Homo sapiens: one gene and its partner. The protein of the gene in region 1 purifies or fractionates together with the protein of each later gene. This does not show direct contact. Each region holds a gene or a part of one and is shown in the gene's direction. Other genes may lie near its edges.

Evidence for each region. Proteins that work in one complex are often made in the same cells at the same time.
Region 2: the proteins of LYPD2 (region 1) and ARSB purify together in Homo sapiens (affinity purification with mass spectrometry; one large-scale study listed by BioGRID and IntAct). This does not show direct contact.

What each region holds. Positions count from the first base shown.
Region 1 is NC_000008.11:142,749,733-142,753,961, reverse strand, and holds LYPD2 (ly6/PLAUR domain-containing protein 2 precursor), read left to right. Parts: upstream 1-1,429; 5' UTR 1,430-1,510; coding exon 1,511-1,568; intron 1,569-2,791; coding exon 2,792-2,911; intron 2,912-3,479; coding exon 3,480-3,679; 3' UTR 3,680-3,812; downstream 3,813-4,229.
Region 2 is NC_000005.10:78,982,511-78,986,648, reverse strand, and holds the start of ARSB (arylsulfatase B isoform 1 precursor), read left to right. Parts: upstream 1-1,338; 5' UTR 1,339-1,400; coding exon 1,401-1,712; intron 1,713-4,138. UniProt on the Homo sapiens protein: Removes sulfate groups from chondroitin-4-sulfate (C4S) and regulates its degradation. Involved in the regulation of cell adhesion, cell migration and invasion in colonic epithelium.

The sequences.
Region 1 (4,229 bases):
ACACAAGTGGGGCGCTAGGGAATCCTTGGTGCCCCACTCACCACCCCTGCACACTCCACCCCCACCTAGTCTCAGAGAGACACAGGCTCTCCCAGCCACTGGGGCGAAGACCAGATCCCAAACAGCTGATGCAGCAGGAAAGTGTGGGGACACCAAAAGGGCCATGGCAGGGAGGGGGTGCGGGCAGGAGAGTGCGGTCGACCAAAGACAGAATTTCAAACACTGGGACAGAAGAGGGAAGGGCATTCCTGGCAGTGGGAACAGCAGGAGCAAAGACCAGGATGAGGTGGGATTTGGGTGCTCAGGCTGAAGAGCTCCAGTGTGAGTCTGGGCTTAGCTGAGATCATGGCCTTGACCGCCAGGGCCCAGGAAGACACAGGCTGCTTGTCACACATCCCTCCCCCAACCCCCACACCCTACACACTGGCAGCTGCAGGACTGGGAGCAGGGGGTGGCAGGATCACAGACCAGACACAACCTGGGGAGGCTGGAGCAGGCAGTCTGGGGGGATGTCCTTGGGGGGAGCTGGGAGCTGAGCAGGAGATGGTCTGAGGCATCCCAACCCAAAATCACTGTCCCCTGTCTGAGCCCCGGGTAAGGAACTTTCCCTCAATTTCCTTACCTGCAAGGAGGTGGTAAGCCCTGCCTGAGGGCAGCTTTATCAGAAGGTTAGAGATGAAGGTACCCAGCTGGCAGGTGGCTGGGGGCATGGGATTAGCACCCCCAAGAGACCCCAGCTCCTCCCCACCCCACTCTCTATCCAGGACCTTCTCTGCTGACCCAGTAGTTTTTGGCATTTGTCTCCTTAAGCCTCTGAGCACACCCTGTAGCTGGCTGTCCGGGTGGCAGTTCACTCCCAGGCCCCCAACACCCAGCCTGACCACTCAAAGGAGCTCGGAGGTGGGACCAAGGTCCTCCTGGAAAGATTCCAGCCCAGAATCTTGGAAGATCCAGCACACAGATCTGCCTTGGAACACAGATGACCTGAGGCAGGAGGGATCCCTGAGGAGCCAGCAGCAGAGAGTGGCCCGTAACACTCCCCTGCCCCCTTCCAGGCAGTCTGGGGGGTCCCTGGGCTGCCTGGGGTGAGCCAGTGGGGGCTCTCCTGGATGAGGGGGGTGGGGAGAAGAGCCGAGCACAGGGTGTGTAGGAGTCAAGGAGGGTCCCCACAAAGGGAAGAAGGGGCGGCCCCAGGCCATGGTGGCGGAGGCGGGGAGCTGGAGGGGTCAGGAAAGGGCAGGGAGGGGACCGGCCTGATACTGGAGGAATGAGGAAGGGACAGGGAGGGTCCCAGTTGGGTGGGGTGGGCCTAGAGGGCCAGGCTGGGAGTGGGAGGAGCAGCCTGGAAGGCTGGGGAGCCCCTGGAGGGGCGGGGTCTTCACACCTCCACCCTGGGGAAACTCTACCCCACTAATCCGCTCAGCAGACCAGTCTGTCGCCACCTCACTTGGTGTCTGCTGTCCCCGCCAGGCAAGCCTGGGGTGAGAGCACAGAGGAGTGGGCCGGGACCATGCGGGGGACGCGGCTGGCGCTCCTGGCGCTGGTGCTGGCTGCCTGCGGAGAGCTGGGTGAGGTGTGGGACCCACAGGGGAGCTGGGACGGAGGGAGATGCCACCCACTGACATTCACACTGTTCCCGGGAGGGCGCCCCAGGAAGGGGCCTCAGAGGCAGGAGAAGCCAGAGCTGTGGGGCCGGGGGTGTGGCCCCCCCGCCATAAGGAGGGGAGGGTGGAAACGGAGAGAGGGGCTGGCGGTGAGGGGGACGCCTAATGAGGGTGAGCAGAGGGTGGCCTTCGAGGTGGGCGGGGGCCCAGCCAGCCACACCCCTGAGCACCAGCCTGGGTGTCACACTTTATGGGGGGCTATGGGCACCCAGAAGGGCCTTGAGCGGGGGAAGGAAGGCAACCCCAGGGAGGCTCTGAGGCTGGGGTGGCAGTAGAGATGGAGAGGAGTGGGGAAACCAGACACATGGGGTGGGGTGACTCCCTGATGTGGAGCCTGAAACAACCATCAGGGGCAATGTCCTGGACTCAACCAGAAGCAGCTTGGCCCAGAGGCCCCTGGCAGATGGCTTTGCCCATTTCCCAGAAACAGGTGCACCAGAGAGGGGCAGAGGCCCCGCTGCATCCCCACAGTGGGGACAGAGGAGTCGGGCCTAGCTGTGCAGCTGGCTGCCCTGGCCAGCTGGAACCAGCCAGACCCACCTGGGCTGCTGCGGTTGGGGCCGGGGTCACCGGAGCAGGAGGGAATTGGAGCCTCTCCGGTCCCCGTCCCTGCCGGTCTGCAAGTCCCTGTGGGAGAGGAGTGGGCACCCAGACACAGCCCGGATGCAGCCTGGCACACCCTGCATTCCATGGGCCTCCTGGCCTGATCCCTTGACCTCCACAGCAGCACTTCCCTGATGGGGAAACTGAGGGGGTAACCTGCCCCCAGCCACGCCCCCACCCAAGGCTTCCTGCCCGAGGTGCCTCTTGCTATGAAGATGCCAGGGCCTTGGTCCCCCTGAGTCTCCCAAACACTTCCAAAGGGGCTTGGCTTGGCTCCTCCCAGGCCTTGCAGGCTGGATCCCCACCCCCAGCAGCCGACTCTGCCTCTGGGATGCAAGGTTCCGAGGCTGAGCCCGGCCTGTCCCCAGCTGCAGGCTCCTGGCATTGCTCCTGAGTTTTGGCTGGTAGGCATCTCTACCCTGGCCAGTGTCACTGTCCTCTTCAGACCTGGGCTTCCAGGACAGACTGTCTCTGGGCTTGGGAGGGGTGGAGCCTGCCTGACCGCCCTTGTCCCTTCTCCCCAGCGCCGGCCCTGCGCTGCTACGTCTGTCCGGAGCCCACAGGAGTGTCGGACTGTGTCACCATCGCCACCTGCACCACCAACGAAACCATGTGCAAGACCACACTCTACTCCCGGGAGATAGGTCAGTGGGCACAGAAGGCGGGCAGGGCCGGGTTCCCGGTCAGAGCCACCTCCAGCCCAGTCACACTCTACTCCCAGGAGATAGGGCAGTGAGCACGGAAGGCGGGCAGGGCTGGGTTCCCGGTCAGAGCCACCTCCAGCCCAGTCACCACCAGCCAGCTTGGCCCCAGTGCACAGCCACCACCTCACCCATCTCCAGAAATGGCTTTCTGCCCGAGCTAGGCCTCCCTCTGCCCTCCCCTTCCTTCCTCTCTCCCTCATGTCCTTCGGTGGGAACATATCTGCAACCTCGTTTTGGGGGGACTGGAGAAGCTGGGCACACTTACAGGCTTTGGTTTCAACAGTCACCTCGGGGCGGGAACTGCCCCATCAGGCCGGGTGCCTGGCACATGGTAGACACCCGGACAACGTCGGTGGGAGGAGAGAGGAAGAGGAGGGCACTGGGCCAGGAGGGACGGAGACCCGGGTGGGTGACCCCAGAGTGGGGCCTGCATGAGGTGGTACTGGCAGGGACCAGGGCTTGGAGGCAGTGACCAGCCCTGACGGCTGACTCTTCCCACACCCCACAGTGTACCCCTTCCAGGGGGACTCCACGGTGACCAAGTCCTGTGCCAGCAAGTGTAAGCCCTCGGATGTGGATGGCATCGGCCAGACCCTGCCCGTGTCCTGCTGCAATACTGAGCTGTGCAATGTAGACGGGGCGCCCGCTCTGAACAGCCTCCACTGCGGGGCCCTCACGCTCCTCCCACTCTTGAGCCTCCGACTGTAGAGTCCCCGCCCACCCCCATGGCCCTATGCGGCCCAGCCCCGAATGCCTTGAAGAAGTGCCCCCTGCACCAGGACTCCTGAGTCTCCTTTCTGGGCACAGACCTGCCCTGCTGCATCTCTGACCTCGTCGATGTCCCCGTTCCTGTGTGTCTGTCTCTCTTCCTGCCTTCCTGTGATGTTAAGCTCTATCCCATCGTGAGAACAGCCACTGGGCCTGGGACCCCCACACAAACCATGCAGATCTCTGCCCTCAGGGGATGTGGGGGCCTGACCAGGGTGGGGCAGCAGCTGAGACCCTTCGGCAAGGGAGCACCACATCTACCAGGGTGAAGTCAGGGCCATCTCCTTGGAGGAGGGGGCATTAGGGCCAAGCCTTGAAGGATGGAGAGATCTGGCAGGCCTTGAGGAGGGCAAGGCATGTCAGGTGGAAGGAAGGTCAAGGCAGTGACCAGGAGCTGGGGTTGTCCTCTGGAGCACCCCACTACCCACCTCCCCAGCCTGAGCAGGGCCTTGCCCCAAGGCTGATGGCGGAGGCTGCTTTGAGGAGGAGA
Region 2 (4,138 bases), on another chromosome or scaffold:
CATAAACTAATCTACTTCATGCAAAGAAAAAAAGTGTATGTAAGAGGCAAACATTTCATGTGTTAAAGGATTCTTGGGGAAAAAAAGGTAAAATCATGACCCTCATACAAATATAAAAGTGAATACATGATTTTATTTAACTCATTAATAAGGAAATTGGTAAGGTGTTAAAACCAATTCAAAGGACAATCCAAAGAACAGATCAGGAATACTAAAATAAATATGCAAGCGGAGGTGAAACTGTTTTCCTTGGTAGTGGTGGAGGGGAAGGATTGCTACTCCGCTGGATAAAGTTCATTTGTGTATATATAAATAAGAATTATTTTCCATTGTTATTTATCTATAACTTATAAAGTTGTAAACAACTTCCACGGAATCAGACTCAACCTGGAAGGGTATGGTCTCTAGGCAATGCAAAAATTTTCCCCTACACCTGTTAACAACTATAATATCTCCAGACAGAGTAGACAGAAAGTCTGGATGGCAACGGGAATCTACTGGTCATACGGCTAACTTCCTAATTCAATAAGCACGTGACTAAAGGATTTTTTCCTTCCACTCAGATATTTCAGGCTAACTAGATACTGTGTGCTTCTTAGTGTCACTGCTTAGTGGGGGAGCCAGCTCTGAGTGGGGTCATATCCGGACAAGCGAATGAGCTATTTATTCAATGACCACGCAACACTCCAAATCCTCCCAGGGCAACTTGAAAGTAACCGCACCTTCCAAAGGGCACCGTGCAATCAGACTGTGTGTTTGGCCTCCTGTTTGCTAGTGGGGAGGAAGCGGCTTCATGGGTGTACACTACGCATAAATGAATGTGAAAGGCTATTTAGACCTCTGCCTTTTCACCGTCCTCCCACCTGCCACAGGCTGGGCTCTTGTGCTAGAAATGACTTGCTAGCTAGACATCATGGTTCAGGATCTGAGTCAGAGGTTTAACCATTTATAAGCTTTTTTCTTATGAAAAATTGGCACTAATTATAATGTCTAACTGTCAGAGTTGTTGCAGGCTTTACAGGAGACGCGGGCTGTGAAGATGCTTTGTAAATTGTGAAGCGTTATTAAAGAACACATCTTTTTTTTTTAGGAAACCACAGTGCAAATTTAATTGCCGGGGAAGATAACGGGCCTTGGTGCCCTCCAAGCGTCAGCTGAGTTTCCAAGAAGCCGGGCAGCGGGCGCCCGCGGGTTCGTCTCTGGCTCCTCCTCCGCCACAGCAGCCGGGGGCCCGGGTCGGAGGCGGCGGGGGCCGAGCGCCCGGCCTCGCAAGCCCACGGCCCGCTGGGGGTGCCGTCCCGCGCCGGGGCGGAGCAGGCCCCGGCAGCCCAGTTCCTCATTCTATCAGCGGTACAAGGGGCTGGTGGCGCCACAGGCGCTGGGACCGCGGGCGGACAAGGATGGGTCCGCGCGGCGCGGCGAGCTTGCCCCGAGGCCCCGGACCTCGGCGGCTGCTCCTCCCCGTCGTCCTCCCGCTGCTGCTGCTGCTGTTGTTGGCGCCGCCGGGCTCGGGCGCCGGGGCCAGCCGGCCGCCCCACCTGGTCTTCTTGCTGGCAGACGACCTAGGCTGGAACGACGTCGGCTTCCACGGCTCCCGCATCCGCACGCCGCACCTGGACGCGCTGGCGGCCGGCGGGGTGCTCCTGGACAACTACTACACGCAGCCGCTGTGCACGCCGTCGCGGAGCCAGCTGCTCACTGGCCGCTACCAGGTACGCGGCGCCCCCGCCGCCCGCGCCGCCCCCGCCCCGCCTTTCGCCGGCGCCCTGCCGCTCCTACCCGGCCCTTGAGGCCGCGGGCGCTGGCAGGCGGGGCTCGGACCGCCGACCCAGTTATGGGTCCCGGCGGCTTCTCGCCCCAACCTCGCTCTTCCAGGCCGGCAGCCCGCCGCGGCCTCTGCGCATGCCCGGCTCTGGCGCCCCGCGGACCCGCGCCCCGGCCGCCGGGTTGGGCGGGTGGCTTTGTCTTTCGTTTTCTGAAGCTCCGGGCGAAGGGGTTTATGGGAATGCCGGGTGCTGGGCGCCGCGGCCGGCAGGCGGAGCGGTCCTGAGGTGGGAGGCTGGGGAGGGCGTGGGCTGGGAGCAAAGACGAGGGGAGAGGTAAAATGAAGGGGTGCTCGCCGTGGGTGCGACCCTGGCCCGTGGGAACCCAGCGGTGATAGGTTAGGAGTGTCCCACCAAAGATTATTTTTTTCCAGGTTCTCAACACCCCTGGAATGAAACCTGATGCTAGGTTGATTTTTCTTAGGCTGCTGACATTCCTTTCACATGTAACCTTGTATTGAACTCTTCTGAGCATCTTCATTATCGCTTTAAAAGCTTCCCTTTAGGAACGGCTCCACAGTTAACGAAGGAAATATAAATGTAGAGCGTGCATAGATGTTAGATGGCTAAGAATATCAAGAACATTTGCATAGCACTTTGTTGTTTTTAAAGTGAATTATTGAAACAGTGCATGAGGTAGTTGTTTTTACCCCGTTTTACAGACGAGGCAGGAAGCCTGTAAAGGCTCGTTGGCATAAGAATCGCACAGCTAGAAAGTGGTCAAGGCAGTGTCCGTTGTGCTTTTCCTGCATCCACTGGTCGTCCCGGGCTTATGAAATTGGCCTTTTTTCCCCTCAATCTGAATACGATTGTCATATTTCTAAGACCCTGAAGTTATTATGACCATATTAAATACAGTAAATGGGAACTGTTGGATACCACCTGCATGCCTTCACAGAGTACATATGCTGTTTACTCAACAAAAATATTTTGAGCTTACTGTGCTACTGACAGGGGATATATATTTGAATGTTGCCCTCCCAAGTGTGTGTTCGCATAACCTGTCAGATCAACCCTAGCCTCACGTGGTCCTAAGATCAAGAGAAGGGAGGGCTTACTTGTGATAAAGATATGCGCAGTGGTCTGAAGGCTTTTATAAAGAGGAAAGATTGGGTGTTGCTAAGGGTGAGAAATAGCTGTAGCCAAGGTTAGAAATGGGAGTAAAGGATGCTTCCCTTCACCATCCACCTTAGTACTTTTGGCGGTTCTGACCTTGGCTGCTACGTGTAATTAGGAATCCCCTACATTGTGTAAATCTCACCCTGGACACTTTGTGGGAGTAAAGGGATGTGCCAGTAAAGAAGAAGAAGAAGGGAAAGGTGAGGTTTGCCCAAAGGGTTCTGCATTTGCTTTGAAGTAAGAGAACTGAACTCAGATTGCAAAAGAATGGAAGGGCCATTCATTTCTCCAACTTCCTCCCTTCCAACAGAGTTGGACAGGAAAGCAAATACCAACTTCAGAAACCCATTCCTGGGCCGGGAACGGTGGCTCACGCCTGTAATCCCAGCACTTTGGAGGCTGAGGCAGGTGGATCACCTGAGGTCAGGAGTTCGAGACCAGCCTGACCAACACGGCGAAACCCCGTCTCTACTAAAACTACAAAAATTAGCCGAGTGTGGTGGCATGCGTCTATAGTCCTAGCTACTCGGGAGACTGAGTCAGGAGAATCGCTTGAACTCGGGAGGCAGAGGTTGCAGTGAGCCGAGATCGCACCACTGCACTCCAGCCTGGGCGACAGAGCAAGACTCCATCTCAAAACAAAATAAAATAAAAAACCCATTCCCGTAATCAGTTGCTTTTGTCCCCTAACATCCTCCCCCACCAGTCACCAAAATTATGTCTTGGAGAACAAACTTTAGTATTTAGAGTACCCCATGGTTATGAAGTAAAGGATGAGTAGAGAAGCTGGGCACTCTGAAAGGTTTAGAGGCCTCTCAGTGTAGCTGATTCTAAAGCAGCCTTGCTTCCCCAAACATTTTTTTTCCTCCAGTTTTCTCACCCACTTTATTCTCTTAGAGTTCATGAGACCCAAGTAGATGTTACCCAGGGTGAGCAAGTGTCCACTTTTAATGAAGTAGAAATTTCAGGGAAGGCTCAGGAGTCTCCGTCAGATACTATATGCTGGTATTGTTCTGAGCACTTACAAGTGTTAACTCATTTGATTCTCACAACAACTCTATCATCTCTGTTCTGTAACAAGGAAACTGATGCTGGAAGAGGTTAAGAAACTTGCCCAAGGTTACAGGGCTAGTATATGTTGGACCAGGATTTGACCCAGGGCACGTGGCCCTAGGGTTGATGCCTATAACCACTAA